Linked DNA regions of Homo sapiens. The protein of the gene in region 1 purifies or fractionates together with the protein of each later gene. This does not show direct contact. Each region holds a gene or a part of one and is shown in the gene's direction. Other genes may lie near its edges.

What was found.
Region 2: the proteins of VDAC1 (region 1) and ATP5F1C fractionate together in Homo sapiens (co-fractionation; 3 studies listed by BioGRID, with this or other methods). This does not show direct contact.
Region 3: the proteins of VDAC1 (region 1) and BCAP31 purify together in Homo sapiens (affinity purification with western blotting; 3 studies listed by BioGRID, with this or other methods). This does not show direct contact.

The regions. Positions count from the first base shown.
Region 1 is NC_000005.10:133,973,578-133,981,609, reverse strand, and holds part of VDAC1 (non-selective voltage-gated ion channel VDAC1), read left to right. Parts: intron 1-415; exon of another isoform or gene 416-462; coding exon of another isoform or gene 463-504; intron 505-611; exon of another isoform or gene 612-653; coding exon 654-881; intron 882-5,588; coding exon 5,589-5,739; intron 5,740-7,761; coding exon 7,762-7,819; intron 7,820-8,032. UniProt on the Homo sapiens protein: Non-selective voltage-gated ion channel that mediates the transport of anions and cations through the mitochondrion outer membrane and plasma membrane.
Region 2 is NC_000010.11:7,783,333-7,791,176, forward strand, and holds the start of ATP5F1C (ATP synthase F(1) complex subunit gamma, mitochondrial isoform L (liver) precursor), read left to right. Parts: upstream 1-4,844; 5' UTR 4,845-4,875; coding exon 4,876-4,931; intron 4,932-7,844. Other genes in the region: KIN (DNA/RNA-binding protein KIN17), read right to left, coding at 4,488-4,601.
Region 3 is NC_000023.11:153,700,388-153,707,387, reverse strand, and holds the end of BCAP31 (B-cell receptor-associated protein 31), read left to right. Parts: intron 1-3,293; coding exon 3,294-3,429; intron 3,430-4,329; coding exon 4,330-4,453; intron 4,454-5,280; coding exon 5,281-5,381; intron 5,382-6,412; coding exon 6,413-6,451; 3' UTR 6,452-6,896; downstream 6,897-7,000. UniProt on the Homo sapiens protein: Functions as a chaperone protein. Is one of the most abundant endoplasmic reticulum (ER) proteins.

The DNA.
Region 1 (8,032 bases):
CAGGTTGGACCTGGGATACTGTCTGGCTAACTAACACTTCCTGGCCCCCATGACTGCAGAGTTCCAGGTTCTACATCAGTACCCGGTTCTCTGAAATATGTACTCATTGGGGTCTCATGAATATGGAATTGAAATCCATTTTACTGTTGTACTCACTTAGAGGGAACATAGCCTTTGTTTCCTTACTTAACCATGTGAGCCACAGAGTAAGAAGAAAACCGTCTCTTTAAAAGCTGCTATTTAGGTAGCTGCCTTCATGGCAGATAAATCTTTTCCACAGGTTTGGAAAATATCAAAGATGCATCTGTTTCATAATTACATGGTGGCTTTCTACCTAATGAATGCCTGTGTAGGCTGCTACGTTAAGCATACAAAGAGGATAGGAGAAGAAAGTTACTTCGTATTTATTTTTCAGGCTTTTCCTGTCTGTGTTCTCACTTCGTTATTGTGGGGTTTCTGCAGACTGAGTCCCTGTGGAAGAGAGGTTGTGTCCTGCTCATTGTGGTACAGCAGTGGCTTAAGGGAGAACTGGAGCCCTGACTTCACCCCCACCCCACTCCCTTTATTTGACCTGGGATTAAAAAAAAAAAAAAGACAACTTGCATTTCAAGGTGAGTTAGCTTCTGATCTTAATATAACTTATTTTCCTTCAGGAAAAAAAATGCTAAAATCAAGACAGGGTACAAGCGGGAGCACATTAACCTGGGCTGCGACATGGATTTCGACATTGCTGGGCCTTCCATCCGGGGTGCTCTGGTGCTAGGTTACGAGGGCTGGCTGGCCGGCTACCAGATGAATTTTGAGACTGCAAAATCCCGAGTGACCCAGAGCAACTTTGCAGTTGGCTACAAGACTGATGAATTCCAGCTTCACACTAATGTGTAAGTGTACATGGGGGCAGCAGGGTGGGAGGGGTGGGGTTGGAGCATGTGTGGTAAGGGGATTGCTTTTCACTGTTTTTTTTTTTTTTTTTTTAAGAAAGCCCAGTTTTTAACCACTGTAAAGTGAGTTTGTTGGCATTAGATGAGCCACATGGCCTGCTGCTATCTTTTGTTTCCCACCTACCCATTTCCTGGAGTGTCTTAGATCCTTTCCACTCTGTGAACAGTATATATTGCCACAGGTACACAAAGTGGCTGATTAATTACAGCAGGGACATGGTGTCAGTCCAGAGCGTGTCCATTCCCTGCAGTTTTTGTTTTAGTTAACAAAACAGCTCTCTTTCTCTGTCTAATGCCTGAGGATTAGCCTGCTGGGCTTGATGACATGTAGACATGGTAGACAAATTTAGGAGCTGATTATCTCAGTTACAAACTATCTTCTCTGTACAGTGAAGCATGTAAAAGTAACTATTGGACAGTATGGTGAAGGGAAACAGTGATTATAGGTTAGGAGAGAGCCCCTTGAGAATTGAAGTAGATTGATGATTTAAGTTAAGGGAAACACATTTCATTCATGAATCTTGTTTTATCCATAAACCTTGTTTTATTTAGTTTCATGAGGAATTAACCTGTGACAGGCACAAGCTGGGTGCAGAGTTACCATGTTTATTTCTTTCCACTAGAGGTCACTAAAGAAGTAACTTCTTAAACTTAAGGCAAATCAGTGATATTAATGTGTAAACTAATATTTCCATTAATAAATTTTTTGAGGAATTTTTATCATTAATTTGGAATCTGTTACAGCTAAAAAGTCACAGGAAAACTATAGAGATGGACAATCTAGTGGTTGGCAGGGGGCGGGGAGGGTATGACTACAAAGCAGTGACTGAGGGAGTTTCGGGGAGGGAACTGTTCTATATTCTGACTGTCGTCATGGTTACATTAATCTGTGTACGTGTGTTAAAATTCGTAAAAATGTATACCAAGAAAATATCCATTTTGGCCGGGCGTCGTGGCTCACGCCTGTAATCCCAGCACTTTGGGAGGCCGAGGCGGGTGGATCACGAGGTCAGAAGTTCAAGACCAGCCTGGTCAAGAAGGTGAAACCCCATCTCTACTAAAAATACAAAAATTAGCTGGGCGTGGTGGCGGGTGCCTGTAATCCCAGCTACTTGGGAGGCTGAAGCAGGAGAATCGCTTGAACCTGGGAGGTGGAGTTTGCAATGAGCCGAGATCACGCCACTGCGCTCTAGCCTGAGCAACAGAGCAAGACTCCGTCTCAAAAAAAAAAAAAAAAAAAAAAAGCAAAGAAAATATCAATTTTATTATATGTTTAATTAAGAAGAGGTGAAACATACTAAAAAGCTATAGGAAACATACCACATGCATAGAAATGTTTTTGAACGTAGAATTCTGATTGGCATGGGAAGTGTTTTCCTTGGTTTGAAATTGGGCATTGGCACCAATTCTTCAGTACCAATTCTAGGAGGAACAATGGCTGTTAGCCATTTCCCCCACATATCTGAGCTTCAGCATTTTAAATAAGCAACAAGTGGGTATGGTTTATTTTTGGAACCAGCGTGAAGGCAGCTGACACAACTCATCTGGGTTGCCCTGGTGCTTGCAGGGGCCCAAATGCATAACAGAAATTCTTTGTGCTTCATATAGATGAATTTGAACAGTTCCACCTGTGTATTTATTTATTTATTATTATTATTTTTTGGTGACAGGGTCTCACTCTCTCACCCAGGCTGGAGTTCAGTGGCACGATCTCTGCAGCCTCCACCTCCCGGGATTAAGTGATACTCCCACCTCAGCCTTGCAAGTAGCTGGGACTACAGGTGCATGCCACCACACCTGGCTAATTTTTGTATTTTTTGTGGAGGCAGGATTTCGCCATGTTGCCCAGGTTGTTCTTGAACTTGTGAGCTCAAGCGATCTGCCCGCCTTGGCCTCCCAAAGTGCTGGGATTACAGGTGTGAGCCACTGCATCTGCCTTCTGTTTATGGTTTTGAAAGCTCTGTACAGGAAGGCAGTATTGTGTTCCTGGTTTTAGGATATTCTGAAAAGTCTGGCCTTTTTTAAAAACATGTAAGCCCAAGAAACTTCCCCATTTGAATATATTACTAAAGTCATTCAAAAATCTTATTTTTGACAGGCTGCTGTTTTATTGTAGCATACTTGGGCTGTCTACAGAAGACAGGATTCTCTGTGAATCAGGCAGTGCCTGGGTCTCCCTGTACTTTCTAGAAGCATAATGTCTGTCTCGCTGAATTTCATGGGGAAACGAAAATTTACAATGTGTGGCTCATACGTGTAATCCTAGCTACTTGGGAGGCTGAGGCGGGAGGATCACTTGAGGCCAGGAGTTTGGGACCAGCCTGGGGAACATAGAAATACTCTGTCTCTAAGAAATTTTTTAAAAATTAGCTGGGCATGGTGGCAACATGCCTGTGATCACTTGAGCCCAGGAGTTTGAGGTTACAGTGAGCTATGATTTTGCCACTGCTCTCCAGCCTGGGAAACAGAGCAAGATCCCATCTTGGGGAAAAAAAAAAAAGAAAATTTAGAATGTATTCTCTGATTTAGGGAGAGTGTCTTGTGAAGACTAGAGTTTTTGTTCTTAGGTCCTGAAGCCCTTTGCTGGATTCCAAAGTACGTGGGCTCTGACTCACAGTTAACCAATGCCATTTCCACTGGAAATGCCCACAATGATGAGGCAGAACTCAGACACTGATTTTATGTTAAAGATGTTTGAGAGGGTCTAGGCAGGCTTGAAGACCATCTGATGCAAGGAGGATGGTCATTCCTTTTTAAAAAATTGCAGCATTAAAATTTTTCTTAATTTTTTTAATCAAAGGAGTCTGAACCCATGGTTGTAAAATCAAACAGTACAGATGGGCCTATGAAAAGCAGTGATTCCAGCCTGCCTCAGCCTGCTCATCCCAGCTCCGCAGTGGCAGCCACTTTAACTGTTTTTGTTTTCTGTGGTTCCCTCCATGGAGAAGGTTGCTTCTGACCAGGCACCAGTATGCACTGTGTGTATAAACAACAATCTGAAAGCAGTAATGAGAGACAGTCTATGATCTGTGCCGACCCCAGCCCGACAGAGGACAAAGTGTAGACTCTGAGCTCTTCGTATGCCTTTTTAGGGGTGGCAGTGACTGCAGAGTTTGTATAGGCTGTTCAGCTGGGTGGGGCAGACTTTCAAATTCTGAGAGCTTAAGCAGGGCCCCAAAAGAGGAAGAGGAGAATTTGAATGACTGAAGAAGGGAAAGGGATATTCCCAGCAACTGGAGTCATTCAGTGTGTTTGTAAGAGAGGAGGGAGCTTGGCCAGCTGGGGTTTCATTCTGAATGTTTTTGAAAGAGGGAGACATTTTATGATGTAGCAAAAAGCTCCCTTTCAAATCCTGCCAGGCTTAGATGTTGCAGCATGGGTGAGGAGTATGCACAGGTGGACGAGATGAATTGTGGATTAAGCTCTTTTGAAGTGCTGCTCCTCCAAGAGGCTGGGTCAGTGCCAACTGTATCTCCCCAGCAGTGGCTGCAGCAGGTTGTGCCAAGGGCTCTAACTTGCCTTCTGAGGCATATGTGCAGCCCCACCTTTCTTGCCATTTCTGGCTGTGTTCTCTTCTCATTTTCTTCTCTTTCCATAACATTTTTTATTTTTACTTTTATTTTTTGAGCCAGAGTCTCACTCTGTCACCCAGACTGGAGTGCAGTGGTGAGATCTCAGCTCACTGCAACCTCTGCCTCCTGGGTTCAGACGATTCTCCTGCCTCACCCCCCCAGGTTGCTGGGATTACAGGCACCTGCCACCATGCCCAGCTAATTTTTATGTTTTTAGTAGAGACAGGGTTTCATCATGTTAGCCAGGCTGGTCTCAAACTCCTGACCTCAAATGATCTGCCCGCCTTGGCCTCCCAAAGTGCTGGGATTATAGGCATGAACCACTGCACCCGGACTTCCATGCCATTTTTCTGGTAGAATCGTTTATAAAAGTAATAACATCAGTAGCAGTAAAAATAAATCACTCAGAATCTCAGTGCTCTACTTGCTGCTTCTTTTTTTTTTTTTTCCTTATAGAGACAGGATCTCGCTCTGTTGCCCAAGCTATATCCTGGGCTCAAGCAGTCCTGCTGCCTCGGCCTCCCAAAATGCTAGGATTACAGGCGTGAGTCACCACGTACCCCCTCTCCCCTGGCTTTTTCTTTTTTTGTTTGAGACAATGTCTTGCTCTGTTGCCCAGGCTGGAGTGCAGTGGCGCGATCTCGGCTTACTGCAACCTCTGCCTCCCAGGTTCAAGCGATTCTCCTGCCTCAGCCTCTTGAGTAGCTGGGATTACAGGCGTATGGCACCAGCCCGGTCAATTTTTGTATTTTTAGTAGAAACAGGGTTTCACCATGTTGGCCAGGCTGGTCTCAAACCCCTGACCTCAAGTGATCTGCCCATCTCGGCCTCCCAAAGTGCTGGGATTACAGGTGTGAGCCACTGTGCCTGGCTAGGTGCCTGTTCCATACTTATCAGACTTCCTGTAATTTAGTACCTGTTTTGTGAAATTTGGTGAACTTCTGACTTCCCTTAATACCAGTATTGGTTCAGTCCATTTCTGTCATCCCTGTCTTCTGGGAGACTTGGGTGGATCTGTCTGGGCTGCAGCTCACCTCCCTGGGAAGCTCAGCATCTGTCCTGTGCTTGTTTGCAGGAATGACGGGACAGAGTTTGGCGGCTCCATTTACCAGAAAGTGAACAAGAAGTTGGAGACCGCTGTCAATCTTGCCTGGACAGCAGGAAACAGTAACACGCGCTTCGGAATAGCAGCCAAGTATCAGATTGACCCTGACGCCTGCTTCTCGGTGGGTATCTGTGGAATCACGCATCTCACAGGCAGGCCCATCTGCTCTTTATGTTGGAATCCTTCAGGTTTGCTGGAGTGCTGTGCTTCAGCTTACTCAAAGTGAGAGATGCTGCTGGGCGCCGTGACTCACGCCTGTAATCCCTGCACTTTGGGAGGCCAAGGCAGGCAGATCACTTGAGGTCAGGAGTCTGACACCAGCCTCGCCAACACGGTGAAACCCTGTCTACTAAAAGTACAAAAATTAGCCGGGCATGGTGGCGTGTGCCTGTAATCCCAGCTACTCGAGAGGCTGAGGCAGGAGAATTGCTTGAACCGGGGAGGCGGAGGTTGCAGTGAGCTGAGATCGTGTCACTGCACTCCAGCCTGGGTGACAGAGTGAGATTCTATCTCAAAAAAAAAAAAAAGACTCCGTCTCAAAAAAACAAAAACAAAGTGAGAGATGTTCTCACTTTGAAAAGAGTGCCAAATGAGTACAGTGATCATACTACTAGTACTTCTTATGGGTACCAGGCACTGTGCAGAGCCTTTTGTGTAGATTACTGTGTTTAATCCCATTTGAAATAGGTGCTTTGGTTTTTTAATCATCTCTGGGTTTTTTTTATTTTTTGTTTTTTTGAGACAAGGCCCAGGTTGGATGCAGTGGTGTAATTGCAGCTCACTGCAGCCTCATCCTCCTGTGCTCAAGTAATCCTGCCACCTCAGCCTCCCAAGTAGCTGGGACTATAGGCACACCAGCATGCCTGGCTAATTAAAAAAAAATTTTTAGTAGAGACAATGTCTCACTCTGTTGCCTGGGCTGGTCTCAAACTCCTGGGCTCAAGCTGTCCTCCCACCTCAACCTCCCAAATGTTGGGATTACAAGGCATGAGCCACCATGCCTGGCCAATCATCTCTGTTTGTTTGTTTTTTTTTTTGAGACGGAGTCTCCCTTTGTTGCCCAGGCTGGAGTGCAATGGCACGATCTCAGCTCACTGCGCAACCTCCGTCCCCCAGGTTCAAGTGATTCTACTGCCTCACCCTCCCATGTAGCTGGGAACACAGGCACCCACCACCACACCTGGATAATTTTTGTGTTTTTAGTATAGACGGGGTTTCACCATGTTGGTCAGGCTGGTCTCGAACTCCTGACCTCAGGTGATCTGCCTGCCTCGGCCTCCCAAAATGCTGGAATTACAGGCATGAGCCATGGCCCCTGGCCAATCATCTCTGTTTTTACAAATGAGGAACTAGAAACTTAGGTGAGTAACTTGCTCAAAGGTACACAGCAGGAAAGTGCTGGGAGCTGGATTTGAACCAGACTGGCTTACTGTTAAGCCTCTTCCATTAATACCAGTTCCTGTTCTATCATGCGGACTGTTAAAAGGGGCACTCTGAAATCTAGGGTTCTAATTGATAATTCCCCCCGCCCCGCCTCACTTTTCATTCTCCTTTTCAGCTCCTGCATTGCATATTAAGAAATCAATAGTCAGTTGGCATCTTGCAGAGTCTCTGGCATTGCTCACAGGCCCTCGAACTACTACACAGTTTTTGCAGTAAATCCTATTGGGCTCATTTCTGTTGTCACAGGGCACTGGCGGCTGTATCTCTTTGGGGTGAAATGAGGGAATCTCATGTTGCAGAATGGTGTCTGTACTGGTTTGTGTAATTTATGGACAGCCCTTTTTAAGTCTCCTAAACTAGAACCGAATTTGGCTCCCTTAACAGCAAGCACTTAAAAACAAGAGAAAAGGAGCCTCATTATTTATATGAGCAAAAGGACACTGGCCCCTAAGAGGCCTTCCTTCTCTCTGCTTTGTTCTTATGAGGGGTGTCAGATCTCAGCACACCCTTTGAACAGAAAGGTATGCACCTAAAATTGATGTATTTTGTATTGAATTTAATGAATCTCATGAACAAGGTGGTCATGAAAAATTTTGATTCTAAAGTCCAAGGTTGGTTGACTAAAAAGCTCTAATTTTGGAGATGGAAGTGCAAAGTATTATACTTAATGTTTTCTCTGTTTTGTCATTTCCTTGATTAGGCTAAAGTGAACAACTCCAGCCTGATAGGTTTAGGATACACTCAGACTCTAAAGCCAGGTATGTGTTGCTTGTGTGTGAAATCGGTTCTTTATCTTAAAAAAATTGTGGTGCTGGTTTGCTGATTTATGTCATTGCTTATAAAATGTTTATATAATACAGTGGGTATATATAAATGGATATATGTAAAGTATAATTAAATGTTTATAAAGGAGTATGGGGTCATTATAAAACATTTGGAGAATATGAGATGTAGCAAGCAGGAGGAAAAAG
Region 2 (7,844 bases), on another chromosome or scaffold:
AATTTTTATAGAGTTGAGCTTTCAACTCTGCTAATCAAAGAATAATCCTTGAGATCAAAGAGACAGCAAAAGAGTGTTGTAGAAAACAGACATTAATAAGAAACATACCAGGCACAGAAACAGAAGAGAGATTCCATTTTTTAGACTTAAGTTAATCAATTCTCATTGAGCACATACTTTATACAAAGTGTCAGACAAGTGCTCAAAGGAGTAAAATGGGTCATTAGTGAATTTTCACCACAGAAACTACTTTCGCTCACTTTCCTCTACTTCAGCTCATTATCCAAAATACATTGCTGCATATTATATTAACCTTGTTAAACATATTAAATCTGTACCTTCTTAAAATGACAGGAAAAAAACATACAAGTTTTGACTTAGTATACCTCTCCTTAATATTTGACCCTCATTCTTCACTAGTAATAGAAACAAAAAATGTGCCTTTCTTGTATTCCCTATCTCTATCTGAAGCACAAGCACCCAAGCCATGAAACCAGACAACATCCTAGATTCCTTCTTCTCTTTCTACCTCCAATTTAATAGGAAGTCTATTCAGCTTCTTAATAACCCATATTCAGTCCCTCTGATCAATCTCACTGACACCGTCCAGATTTCCACACTCGATTTTGCTTCAAATAGTTTCCTAATCTTTAGATCATGGACCTCTTACACAATTTTTGCCTCATCTGTGCCCTATAAGAATCATAGTTATTATTTAAATTTATTTTTAAAAGAAACTTGGTATCAGCCTCATAAATAAACAGTATCACTTTCCATATATTAAAAAATAAAATAAAATGAACAAACAATACAGTTACTAAATCCTAGAAACCCAGGAGTAGATTGGGGGGATACCCTGGCTCTGACCTTCATTCTCTTCAGCCTTCCAGTATCAGGAGATTACAGAAAAGAATTAATCCTTTACTCCTTTCCCAAAAAAATTGCATCTCAGTTTAACATTTAAGGATGGCCAGACACAGTGGCTCATGCCTGTAATCCCAGCACTTTGGGAGGCCAAGGCAGGAGGATTGTGTGAGCCTCCGAGTTCAAGACCAACCTGAGCAACACAATGAGACCTCCATCTCCACAAGATATTTTTTGAAAATTAGCCAGGCATGGGTGGTATGTGCCTATAGTCCCAGCTACTTGAGAGGCTGAGGCGGGAGGATTGCTTAAGCCCAGGAGTTGGAGGATGCTGTGAGCTATGATCGAGCCACTGTACTCCAGTCTGGGCAAGAGTAAGACCCTGTCTCAAAAACAAAAAAAAATAAGTTTAAGGATAACCAAATAGCCCTAGTTGATGAGCAAAAGCTCATTTGTACAAAAGCATGGCAGCCAATCATAAATGTTAAAAAAAAATTAGAAAAATAACCTCTTTGCAACTCCTAATAAAATAACTGACTCAGGCAAGGATGCTAAAACACACAGGTAAAAGGTTAATGGGAAACTAGATATATAGGTATGATTTCTAAGTATTACCCCAATACTCACTTGCTCTTACAAGGGGGAAAATAATACTTTCTAATATTATTTACAAGCTGTCACCTTTACTCAATTTAAGTACTACCAAACATTATTGGCTTCCTTATATGATGCTATATGAGATATACAAGATCACCTATAAAGAATACTATAGGCTGGGCATGGTGGCTTGAGCCTGTAATCCTAGCACTTTGGGAGGCCGAGGCAGGAGGAGTGCTTGAGTTCAGGAGTTTGAGACCAGCCTGGGCAACATGGGGAGACCCTATCTCTATACAAATAAAAAAGTTAATTAGGCATGGTGGCAATCACCTGTGGTCCCAGCTACTTGGGAGGCTGAGGCAGGAGGAGGATTGCTTGAGCTGGGAAGGTCAAGGTTGCAGTGAGCCATGATCGCGCCACTGTACACGAGCCTGGGCTACCAATTGAGACCTTGTCTCAAAAAAAAAAAAAAAAATCATATTCCTCCCTGCAAATGTTTAACCTGAAATTAATCTATCAAGATCACCTACAAAGTATTCTTTCTCCCCAAAATGTTTAATCTAACCCAATCAAAGCTTTTAGATATAATTTCCAGTTGACAGAAACTACGAGTTAGAAGGCAAAAGACAACCAGAGGAAACAAGTCAACATATATGGGATGCTACAGGACAACAGCCTGGCCTCCTCTCTTCAACAAGTCAATGTCAAGAAAAAGACGGCTGGGCGCAGTGGTTCACACCTGTAATCCCAGCACCTTGGGAGGCCGAGGCAGGTGAATTACCTGAGGTCGGGAGTTTGAGACCAGCCTGGCCAACGTGGCAAAACTTCGCCTCTACCAAAAATACAAACATTAGCCAGGTGTGGTGCCAGGCACCTGTAATCCCAGCCTGTAAAGTAGCTGGGACAGCTACTTGGGAGGCTGAGGCATGAGAATCACTTGAACCCGGGAGGCAAAGGTTGCAGTGAGCTGAGATCGCATCACTGCACTCCAGCCTGTGAGACAGGTGAGACTCTGTCTAGAAAAAAAAAAAAAAGAAAAAGGGGTGGAGGGAAAATGGGTTATATTCTAAATTCAGAATATAGAGAAAATTAAATTTGGAGAAAACTAAAAGTCCTAATAACTCAGAGCACAGAGGACTTTTTGGGCAGTTAAACTATTTTGTGAGATTTTATAATGGTGAATACGTATCATTATGCATTTGTCAAAACCCATAGGATGTACAACACCAAGAGTGAACCCTAATGTAAACTATGGATTCTGGATGATACTGATGTGTCAATGTAGTTTCATCCATGGTAACAAATATAACACCTCGTTGCAGGATGTTGATGATGAGGGAGACTGGAGAGGGGAGCGGAGGTCCTAATAACCAAACCTATAACAGTCTATTGCTTTTGATCGAATCTTGATTTCAAGGAGCAGTTGGAGGACAACTGAGGAAGTGTGAATGTGTATTAGATGATAAAGAGGAACTTCTATTAATTGTGTTATGTTGATGACATATACTATGGTTATATAGAAAAGTATCCTGAAATTTTAGAGATGCCTATTTAAGTATTTAAAGGTGAAATATCCTGATATTGGTATTTACCTTAAAATATTTTTTAAAAAGTAAATACGGCAAAATTACTTAAAGTGTTAAGTCTGGGTGTTACAGACTGCATGTCTGCGTCCCCTCAAAGTTCATATATTGAACCCTAACCCCCAAGGGAATGGAATTAAAAGGTGGGCCTTTGGAGATGACTGGATTTAGATGAGGTCACAAGGGTAGAGCCTGCATGATGAACAGGGTGGGACCGTATCTCAAAAAAAAAAAGAGGAAGAGAAGTTTCTATTAGAGCTTGCTCTATCTGCTTTGTGAGGATAGAGGCAGTTTCGCAAACCAAGAAGAGGACCCTCACTAGAATCTGACCATGCCAGCACCTTGATCTTGAACTTCCCAGCCTCCAGAACTGTGAGAAATAAATTTCTGTCATTTAAACCACCCAGTCTACTGCACTTTATATGGCAGTCCAAGCAGACTAAGACATTAGATAATGCATATACAGGTATTCCTTAATAGAACTAAAGAGAGTAACTGTATCAATATTAGTATGAGTCCTACCTAAAATACCTCTTCCTTCACTTGCAGAAACACTGGATTAGATTATTCCAATTGCCTCAGTGTTCTTCCACCCTTACCCAATCCAGTCCAATCTCCGGAGAAAAATATGATCACATCACTAGCCTGCACAGCATTCAATCAACCACCTCTTTAATGGGGAAAAGTGTAAATTCCATAGTGTAGCCATATAAGGCTTTTCGAGATCTGCCCAGACTCCTTGAGCCACTCTATATATACTTCACTCATTTAAAACTCAGCGACAATCCTACAAGTAGGTGAAATTATTATTCCCTCTTTACAGATAAGTAAAGGGGAATATAAGTAAATAACTTGCCCAAGACCACACGGTTGGTAAGTGGCCCTGCTTGACTTTAAATTTTGACAGTCTGATATATCCATAAACCAGATAAATCCATAATTTTAACCACAATATTATTCTGTGCCCGGTACAGTGTAGGTGCTCAATAAATGCTTGCTAGATGAGTAGTGTGGAAGAGCTTAGCTCTCCTTTTTCACCTGATCCCAAAAGAGGAGTGAATCCTAACCACCCTGTTTCTCTTAAGAGTCAAGTCAAGTAAGAGCTGATGACTGTTACTGGCATTGCCCGGGCGTCTAGTATTGCAGTATCCCCGCCCCTGTGAGGGGTGCAAAACCTTTTCTGATTTCATTTCTTTGGTGGTGGGGATCGGACTGGGGAGGAATGAGGGGTCGCAGAACACAGGCTGCCCGCTGGGCCCGGGGGCTGCGGGGAGGGACGGCTCTCGTGCGCTGAGTAGTTGACTCGCCCACTGCAGACCTCAGAAGCCTCACGACCCGGACCCCGGGAGCCCCAGCCCCGCGCCCTCAGCCCCGCGTCCAGGACCTGATCCTGGATTGCCAGGGGCCCTCCTGGGAAGACGGGGCCACTCCGGGCCCACTCACCTCGTCCCGGCACTGCTTCTGGCACATCTGGCAATACCAGCGTAGCTTCTGCAGCCCCTTGGACTTGATCCTGTTGGCGATAGCCTTGGGAGTAAGAAAATCCGACTTCCCCATGGCGACCACGGCAGCGATCACTTTCTGGACCCCAGTACTCAGCCAGCCGGAAACGGAACCGGGCTGGCGGCGGTGGGCGGGACAAATCCCAGCTGAGAGGCGGAAGGAGGTGGGGCCTGGGAAGACTGGGTTGCAACGGTCGCGAGACTCCCCTCGCCGTAGCGCGAAGAAACGAGACTGAAGAAGAGAGCAAGGTGGGAGGGGCGCGCTGGGGAGCTTCGGCGCATGCGCGCTGAGGCCTGCCTGACCGACCTTCAGCAGGGCTGTGGCTACCATGTTCTCTCGCGCGGGTGTCGCTGGGCTGTCGGCCTGGACCTTGCAGCCGCAATGGTATGGCAGCTTGCGGGAAGATCGGCAGGACCGCAAGGGATGGAAGAGCTTGGGCACGGGGCAGGGAGGAGGAGATGGGCGCGGGGGCAGATGTGGGGTCGCAGGGCCTAGCTGGGCCCCTGGCCCGTCGGAGGCGCCGGGTAGCGGGGGCTGCAGGAAGCGGCTCTGAGGTCGGGCAAGGTGTGCGCAGGGCCGGGCTCCGGCGGAGCAAGGTCCCGCCCGGTTCCCTGAGGTCGGAGGGCCACCTGGGACCTCGGGACTGCGGCCTGAGTCCAAATTGACGTCTGGGCGGTCTTGAGTTCCCTCAGCTAATCAGCACTTCCTGAGCTTCCACTTCCACTGCAAGCCAGGCCCCCAGTCTCAGGGCCTGCAAGGTGACGGGAGCCTGAGCAATAGCCCAGGGGAAGGTTAAGTCGTGCTTTTTGTCCTTGACGCCCTTTGAAACCCTGTAGTGCTGGACAGAGTGACCCTTTAAGATTCGATCGAGTCAGAGAGCGCGGCCGTCGAGCACCTCCCGTGTTGCAGACGCTTTGCTGGGTGCTGCAACAGCAAAGGCGAACATCCTAGATGCCTCTGAGGGTGGTTTTGGTGCAGAAGGGACCGTACAGATCTGTCTGAGGGCGGGGAAGGGAAGGACACCTAGCACTACCTTGAAACCACTTGCTGAAACCGTAACCCTGCAAGGTCATGAAATTGCCCCCAGGTCCTGGGGGAGGAGTTCGGTGGGCTTTTAAGTGGCATTTGTTAACTGACATGCAACTAAAGGGTGCCACGAGCCTCGAGAATTTTAAACATTAGTTCCGGGTAGGGGGACCTGGGCTGGGGGAAGTGCATATTAGAAGGCCCGGGAATGGGCAGGTAAAAGTTGGTTTGTGGGTGGTGCTGTTCAGTTTTGAAGCTTGACGGAATCTGGAAGAATTCCAGACACGCTGCTAAGGGGATTCTAGGCTGTGTCGTAGCAATTCCCTGCTCTTAACAGTGTGGAGGATTTCTAAGGCGCTACAGTGCTAAACTAGATTTTCGTATCCTAATTTATATGAAGGGACCATAAAGCATTAGTTGAAATAAATAGGTTTTTCATTAAGCAAATAACTGATAGTAATATACGAGATTTTCAGAATGATATCTGATGTGAATTAGCCACATAAAATTTTTGGTGGCTTGGCCTTGGAAGTCAGATTTTTTTTTCTCTAATATGGAAAAAGAACATTCATGGGAATTAAAAGGTCACTGTAGTTGAATTCTCAGTTGTATAGATTGTCCCACTTGTTAACCACTCAGCAGACATTAGCTGAGTGCTTCCACTCCACCCGGTGGTACTTGGAAAGTGCCCAAATGTGATGGTGAGCAAATAGATAAGGTCTCAGTCAGTTTCCTGGGACAGTGCCTGGCATGCAGTGGTGCTCTGCGAACATCAGCTCTCCTGGCCTTACCTTCTTGCCACGCATTAATGTTATCTGTCAGTATTTTTACAACCTTAGTTTCTAAGTTGATCTTTAAAAAAGTGGAAATAGTTTCTGAAACAAAGACAATATTTTACAAAAAATTTTAGAAATATCTTTTTTTAAAGCACCTGTAAGATAATTTGAAGCTCTTTTAGTGAAGGATTGTTTTAAATAAGAGCTCTCAGTTCAAGACAACTACTGTTAGGAGCTTAAATCGGAACCACAATCAGCATATAAAGGTCCTAATCCTGACCTTAATCCCTTTGGAATATTGGTTTTATAAATCATCAATCAACAGTGTTCCACTATGAAAGCATATTCTGTCTTCTTCTTTTCATGTATTCCTTCACTGCTGGTGCTTAATGTCTTTCCTTCCTCTTCTGCCATTTCTCTTTCCATGAATTATAATTGCCTTTTGAATTCAGAAATTAAAACCACTCCACAGAATTAATTTGGAAGGGGAAGAAAAGACCTTTGTCTTAACGAACCATGAAGAGGCATATTTCCATGCTTCTGTCTTGATTACTGGAAGTTTTTTAAAGTACAATTTGTTATTTTAGTTTTTGTTTTCAGAGAGGCTACCATGCTAACATAAAAACATTAGGCTTACTTAAATTCACAGTGGTTATTTTAATAGTTGTTAGGGTATCGGCAAAATACTCTAACGTTTTGAAAATTAAACCTTTTTTTTAAAGCAGCATATAAGAAAATGGAAATTAAAAATTTGAGAGAAAGAATCCCGGATTTTACTGTCTTCAAATTTGGGAAAAACATTTCTATTTCTTAGAGTTCAGTAGTCTCTAAAATGGAACTGTTTTTTAATAACGTGTCAGTAGTCATAAACTACAGATACCGATAAGGAGATGGCATTTCAGGAGAGAAAAGACAAATTGTCATCTGAGACCATGAGGGCAGATATTTACTAATAAATGTAAAAAATGTGAGGCAGCAGAGTGTAGTACTGTATGAAGAGAGAGACTCTGTAGCCAGCCCTGAAGGGCTGCATTCAGACGGCAGGGATTGAATTCTGATTGCCACTTAGCAGCTCTGTGACCTTGGGCAGGTTACTCAGTGTCTGTCCCACCAGTTCCTCATCTGTCAAATATATGCAATAAAAGTGCACAATTCAGTGGGTTAGTGTGAGGATTAGAGTATTTGCAAAGCATGTAGGACAATGGGGGAAATGCTGATAGGGATCCAAATGCTGTATATCAGTAGAGAAATGAAGAGTTTTTAAGTACAGTTTCTACATCAAATGTAATGTAAGAAGATTGCTTGGACTTGCGAAAAGAGGAAAAGAAGATGCAGTCGGGCTAGGCGCAGTGGCTCACGTCTGTAATCCCAGCATTTTGAGAGGCCGAGGCGGGCGGATCACAAGGTCAGGAGATCAAGACCATACTGGCCAACATGGTGAAACCCTGTCTGTACTAAAAATACAAAAATTACCCAGACGTGGTGGTACGCACCT
Region 3 (7,000 bases), on another chromosome or scaffold:
CCCCTTTTTTTTTTTAGCTATACTTGCTGGAGTGGGCGGAAGACCCCTTTTCAGTGTGCCAGGTATGGGAGTGCAGAGATGAAGGCACAGTGCCCAGCCTAAAGACCTTCATAGCCTGGTAGGGCAGCCATATAAACGGATGGCAGCCACGCAGAGAACAGAGAATGAGGTAGTTACATGCGGGTGCCTGGGGGGCTGCTGCAGGAGCCCCCAGAAGGCGTCCCTCTGATGGGGTGGGAGATCCAAAAGGGTTTCTGGGGGGAGGTGAGGATTGAGCTGGGTCGAGAGGACATTCCGGCCTGGAGAACTGCCACACAGAGCCAGGCGTGTTCCAGGAATGGTGAGGGGTTAGGTGTTACTAGAGCAGGGGGCCACGTGGTTAGTGAAGGAGGAGAGCTCACTGAGGGCATGCGTGCTGGCAGCAGGTGGCTTAAGCAGAGGGCTGACATGGTCGGATTTGCCTTGCTCTGGGAGGTGGATGGGAAAGCCGTATGGCAGCAGATAGGGAGGAGGCGCCAGCAGTGGGGATGATGGTGGGCATGTTTGCAGTTGACATGGAAAGTGCTGGGTTGTGGCTTGGGCTGGGGGCCAAGAGGGCTGAGTCCAAGGCGGTTTGCCTGCCCACCACTACAGCAGGGGCTACACGAGGTGGTCAGGTCAGGCAGGACAAGGGAAGGCCCGTTTTGGACAAGCTGAGTCTAGAATGTCTCTGGGGACATCCAGGAGCCAATGTTTAGCAGGAGGTTAGGTATGAGTCTGGGCCACAGAGAAAACCCTTTCGGGGATAAGAGTGGCTGGGAGGAAGGTATAGGGTGTCAGCTGAAGAGTGCAGACCCCAGAGGGAGCAGAATAACAGTGGGAGGAGGGTGTTGCGAGGGGACCTCAGGAGGGTAACTTAGCAGCAGAGCAAGGAGTTCAGGGTGACCTCCGGCCTGGGCGGTTAGGAGGCCACTGGTGGCCCTGCTGCTGGCTTGGAAGGGCAGGCCTTGGCCAGCCTAGGTTGAGGAATATATGGGAGGGAAAAGACCAGGGGCTTGGGCAGGGTGACTCCAGGAAGGAGGCAGTTGAAGGTGAGGTTCCTGGGGGGAGAATGATCCCGGGTCATCCAGCAGGAAGAGAGAGGACCTAGAAGGTGTGAAAAAGAACTATCGGGCTGGGGGTGCAGTGGGAGGAGTATGCCCGGGGTGCTGTGGGGGTGGGGAGCGCCTGTGAGGGTTGGCAAGAGGAAGGGGAACCGGGGCCTGGCAGAGGGGAGCCCCAGACTGTCTCAAGGCTGGGAACTGAAGGCCTGGGCTGGGGCTGAGCAGGGCCAGGCTTTCGGACACACACAGCGTGGATCTTGCGCTGGACTTTGTGTATGCCCTGGCCTATCTTGGAAGCCCTGGTTCTCAATAGCCGGGAAGGGCCTGGGACGGTCCGAAAAGAGCTGGGCCTCTGCTGCACTGCCGCGGAAGCATTTGTGTTAGCTATCTCCCTGGGTACTGGGGTGACAGCCATGGGCACTCACCAGCAGCCGCTTGCCTGGCCTGGTGGCGGGGAGTATAGCCTTCAGTCTTGCTTGGTCCTCTCTCTACCACCAGGTGGCATGACCCCCACCCCTCAATTCCAGCTGGGAGGAGCGGTCCTCTTCCTCTTTCTACATCACTGGGATCCGCTCTGGGGCTGGGCAGCTCCTTGCCGGGGGCCTGGGTCTTAGTCAGACTTGCCTTTCTTTCTAGGCCTCTCCATTGACTTCTGGCCATGCCGATGTGAGTCAGATGCATTGTTTCTCTCTGGCTCCTAGGGCGCTCAGTAGCTTCCTCCACCTTCAGGCTGTAGCCCAGTGCGGGGCAGGCTGGTGGGCAGCTGGGGGCTGAGGCAGGGAAACCTGAGCCCTAGGCCACGAGGTCCTGGGCCGCTAATTTTAGAAAGCACATGTCACTGGAAACTCTCCTTCTCTGCCAGGAATCAACGGCCTGGCTCTCCTGGTGCTGCCAGGGGCCCCTGGGAGCCTCTCCCCAAACCAGGAACCTCAGGGGTGTCTCCTGGCCCGGGTGGGTACTTTCTGTCCTGAGTACATCTGGAAAGGGGCTCTGCCGAGGCCCTGGAGAGCCATGGCTTGGGCCAGGGAGGTAGCTCACCTTGTCTGCTCTTTACTTTCTCCAGCCCTTCCGGGCTGCCCCTGGCCATGAGCAGAGGCTGTGAAGTGTGAAGGCCTGGCTGGGGCAGGAGGCCACTTCGACTCTTCTGAGTAAGCTGTTGTTGAAGCACTCTGGACTAAGCAGATTTGTCTCTTCCTTCCCCCAGGCCCTGTGTGACCCTTGCCTTCTGAGGTGTGTGAGAAAGGAACCCCTGCCTTGTTTTGACTGTTTGAACGAGTCCTTCCCTCCTCTCTTCCTGCCAGCTAACATCTCGGGGCAAGGGTGAACCAAGGGAAATGAAGTGGCCATTCCAATCTCTGTTTGGGGACTAGCATCTGCCTCCAGCTGCCACCTGTTTGCCTGTCTCTCCTGGCTGCTTCAGAGAGGCAGCCTGCGCCTGTGTCCTGATTCCTCTACACCCTCCAGCCCAAGAAGACCTCATTCGGGGTGCTGTTACATAACGGATGTGTTCCAGCGCAGCCTGCATGATGGGTTGGGAAGGAGGCTGGCCAGAGAAGAGAGTTCTATCTTACGTTGGGACCTGGGAGCTGTTCCCTGTTAGTTTAGAGAGCAGAGTGGTTCCGAGCTCAGGTTCTGGAGTCAGGCAGACATAATTTGGAATTCCAGCCATGTCCATTTCTGGTTTTTGGCCTTGGGTACATTGATTTACGCTGCTGAACTTCAGTTTCCTCTTCTATAAGCTGGGGCAGTGATAGTAACTTCCTCATCAGGTAGATGTGAGGATGCGGCCTGGCATGTTGGAAGTGCTTGGATTGATTAGCTTCTCTCGTTACCTTACCAAGGCAAGCCCAGCCTCGCAGGGAGGAAGGTGGTGCTGTGGCTTGTCTGGCACGTCTAGGCCCCGACCCGGAAAGTGCCGCGTTCTGGGACCTCATGCTGTAGCGAGGCTCTTCCCAGCCCCCCAGGCTCCTGCTTCCAGCCCCTCTGAGAGCTGAGGGTGGCCGTTGGGCACAGCGGCAGAGGACGGCTCCTGGGCCCCACCTTTTCCCTCACGCTGCCAGCACCAGGTTGGCGGCTTCTCACTCGGCTGCCTTGGCAAGAGGGCAGGTCCAGGCTGGAGCTAGGTGTGGAGTGGGAGCAACCAGGAGGTGCTCCTGCCAGCCCTTCATGCTCTTTTTCTCACTTCTCCCTTCTTTTTGTAAATAATTGCAGCCTGCTTAGACGCCTGGTGACTCTCATTTCGCAGCAGGCCACGCTGCTGGCCTCCAATGAAGCCTTTAAAAAGCAGGCGGAGAGTGCTAGTGAGGCGGCCAAGAAGTACATGGAGGAGAATGACCAGCTCAAGAAGGTGAGCCCAGCTTCCCGACCCACCATGGGGCGTCCTGGTGTTACACTGTGGGAGCCACATTCTTCAGGGCCTCAGTGGCCACTGCTAGCCTGTCACGCTGGGAAATGTGCCTGAAAAGCCAGAGTTGGGTGGAGGCGCAGAGGGGAAGTCCTCAGTGGGGAGAGTATGCCTGCTGGAGGCGTCTGTGTGTGAGGGTCCGGGTGAGGAGGAGGGTGTTGCTGCTCTCGTTTCCATCCACTGCTTCCAGTTAGACCCTTCCCTGAGAAAAATGGCCCCTCAGTGAGCCAGGCCCTCTGCTGTGATCCGAAGGCCCTCAGCTAGGCCCTTGTTCCCTGCAAGATTGCCGCACCCCCTCTGGAACTCGGGGTCTGTGGCATCCCTCAGTGCTGGAGAGGAGGTGGGGGCAGGGTAGTTGGCCAGTCTTAGACGTCCCGTCAGGAGGTGAGCTGCAAGGCAAGCTCGGAGGGATGTGGATGCAGAGGTGGGATAGAGCTGGCCAGGCCGACTGGGGGCTCCTAACTGCAGTGAGCGGCACCATGTAGGGAGCACGAGGCACCGCCATCTGTGGAGGGGTTGGTGAGCACCATGGAGCTGCTGAGCCCTGCTGCTTGGGAAGGAGGCAGGGCCAGGGGCCAGGGGCCAGGGGCCAGGGCAGGCAAGGCGTGCCCGGCGAGCTGCAGCAGGTGGCCCCGCTGGCGCTTCTCTTTCCCTCGGCGGGCAGCCACGCCCTGGCCTTTGCCTAGGAGCTGGGAGCAAGTGGTGGCTCGGTTCCGCGTTGACATTTCCGAAGGGGCGTGTGGCCAGGGCAGCTTGAGGAACCGCAGCTCGGTGGGGAGGATGGGGCTGGAACCTCTCCCTCCCTCCCTCCTGAGTAACCCTGGCCTTTGGCACTTTTCCCAGGGAGCTGCTGTTGACGGAGGCAAGTTGGATGTCGGGAATGCTGAGGTGAAGTTGGAGGAAGAGAACAGGAGCCTGAAGGCTGACCTGCAGAAGCTAAAGGACGAGCTGGCCAGCACTAAGCAAAGTGAGGCTCGACCTCGTGTCCTTCCCCGCAGGGAAGTCCAGAGGAGCCTCCTCTGCCCGCTGCTGCCCATTTTGTGCCAAAGTATTAGTAACAAGCCTTGCACGCACGCTCGAGGGCTGGCTGAAAACAGACCAATAGCACCCTGCGCCTCCAACCCCAATGCAGCCATGCTTAGCCGGCAGGCCAGTGAGGCTAAGTGGTTTGAATGGGGCTCAGGAGGAACCAGGCTGCAGTTGGTGGGCCTCGATTGCCCTGCACTAGAGCAGTGCATGCTGGGGCTTTCCCGTCCAGAGTGTGGCACGGTAGCCCCAGCATGCCTGGGGGCTGAGAATGAGGGGAGTGTGGGAGTGGCGTTCAGGAGGGGAGTGGGCGGCTCCCAAGCGGCCTGCCTGTCTTTGGTCTCCCACGCATAGACTTAAGTCTGGGGCGTTTTCCCCCAATACCACAGGCCTCGCCTGCTGCTGCTGTGTGCAAGGCGTGGTTGTCATTGGGTCTCGCTTGCAGGCTGGGATCTTGCTCCCTGTCTCCCACTCTCAGCCTCCCTGGAGGTTACCCTTGCCGAGAGCCACTAGAGTTCCTCTCCATTAAAGGGACTGGGGGATGGCCTCTGTGTTTCTTTTGCTTTATCTTGAGCTTTTTTGTCAGCCCTTTCCCTCTACTTTGGGGGCCTGCAAAAGCAGAGGGGCTTTATTTTGAGAAGTAGCCTCCTGTATAACCTCGTTTGAGATAGATTTGGGCCAGTTTCTGGTGTCTGTAGCAGTCGGGTTTTTTCCCCCTAATTCCTGTCTTTTCGTTTCTGTTTTCTTGGTCATTTACATCATTTCAAGAACTAGAGAAAGCTGAAAACCAGGTTCTGGCCATGCGGAAGCAGTCTGAGGGCCTCACCAAGGAGTACGACCGCTTGCTGGAGGAGCACGCAAAGCTGCAGGTCAGCCCTCCCGTATTGCTGCGCCCAGGGCAGGAGAGCAGAGCAGGATGAGGCAGCCCCTGCGGGTGCGGAGGGAACCTTCCAGGGGCCCAGGGGCTGGCTGCCCTCTCCACCACTCCCCCTGGCCACCTCTGCCCTACTGAGTGGGACCCTTCACCGGGCAGGAGGGGGGTGGCCTGGCAGCAGATGTAGGCACTTGCCAAGGCGGCCCTCAGGAGTGGCACTGGCTCACTAGGCTCTGAGCCTTCCTACCTTCGTGCTCAGGCGCAGCCATGGTTTGGGGCCTGGTCAAGAACAAAGAAGCAGGTGAAACTCTGGGACCCACTGCTGGCCTTCTTTCCTAGGGTGCTGGGGAGTGACGTAGGGCAAAGATCCCTGGGCAAGTGAGGGCACAAGGTGTCAAAAAGGCACCTTCCCTAGCAGGCGCTAGTTGTGGCCATCACCTGCTGCCCTAGGCCTGATCTGAGTCCTCAGACTAGCTTGGGTGCACCAGGCCGCATCTGGAAGCCCAGGCGGTCTTGACGTTGGGAGTGAGGGCCACATAAATACTCCTAACTTTGGACAGCTGGCCTCAGTGCTTGGTGGCCCAAGTTTGGGCACCACAGCAGGTGGGGAGGAAGGGTCCAGCCTCAAAGGGGGCACCCATGCCCTCTGTATGGGGCAGGCTTGGCAGATGGGCTTCGAGGGCACCTGTCAAAGGTGTGCAGAGTTGGGAAGGGTCTGATCAGGTCTTGAAGGGGACTGGATGCCTTGCTGTTCCCTGCAGCCAGGACTCAGCCCCCAGTGAGGTCCTGGCAGTCCTCCCTGGCTGGCGTTAGGTCCAGGGCTTTCCCTAGAGCGTGGGCCAGGGCTGACGCTCCCACCCTGGCAGGCCTTTGGGTGCAGCTGGGGAGGGGGCCCCTTGTTCACTTGAATAGCTGTTGTTAGGAGAGAGGGGAACCGAGGTGGACCTCTGGGGCATGGGGCTGGAGGTGGCAGGGGAGGAGTGGACCCGGCCAACCTACTGCTGTGGGATTTCTGTCCCTTTCCAGGCTGCAGTAGATGGTCCCATGGACAAGAAGGAAGAGTAAGGGCCTCCTTCCTCCCCTGCCTGCAGCTGGCTTCCACCTGGCACGTGCCTGCTGCTTCCTGAGAGCCCGGCCTCTCCCTCCAGTACTTCTGTTTGTGCCCTTCTGCTTCCCCCATTCCCTTCCACAGCTCATAGCTCGTCATCTCGGCCCTTGTCCACACTCTCCAAGCACATTACAGGGGACCTGATTGCTACACGTTCAGAATGCGTTTGCTGTCATCCTGCTTGGCCTGGCCAGGCCTGGCACAGCCTTGGCTTCCACGCCTGAGCGTGGAGAGCACGAGTTAGTTGTAGTCCGGCTTGCGGTGGGGCTGACTTCCTGTTGGTTTGAGCCCCTTTTTGTTTTGCCCTCTGGGTGTTTTCTTTGGTCCCGCAGGAGGGTGGGTGGAGCAGGTGGACTGGAGTTTCTCTTGAGGGCAATAAAAGTTGTCATGGTGTGTACGTGGTGCGGTGTGTGACTGCAGCTGTGGGGAGGGCTCTGCTTTCTCTCCTGCCTGGAGCCCCCAAGCGGCCACAGCCCTTCAACCTGTTTCCCCCACTGAAGGCCAGG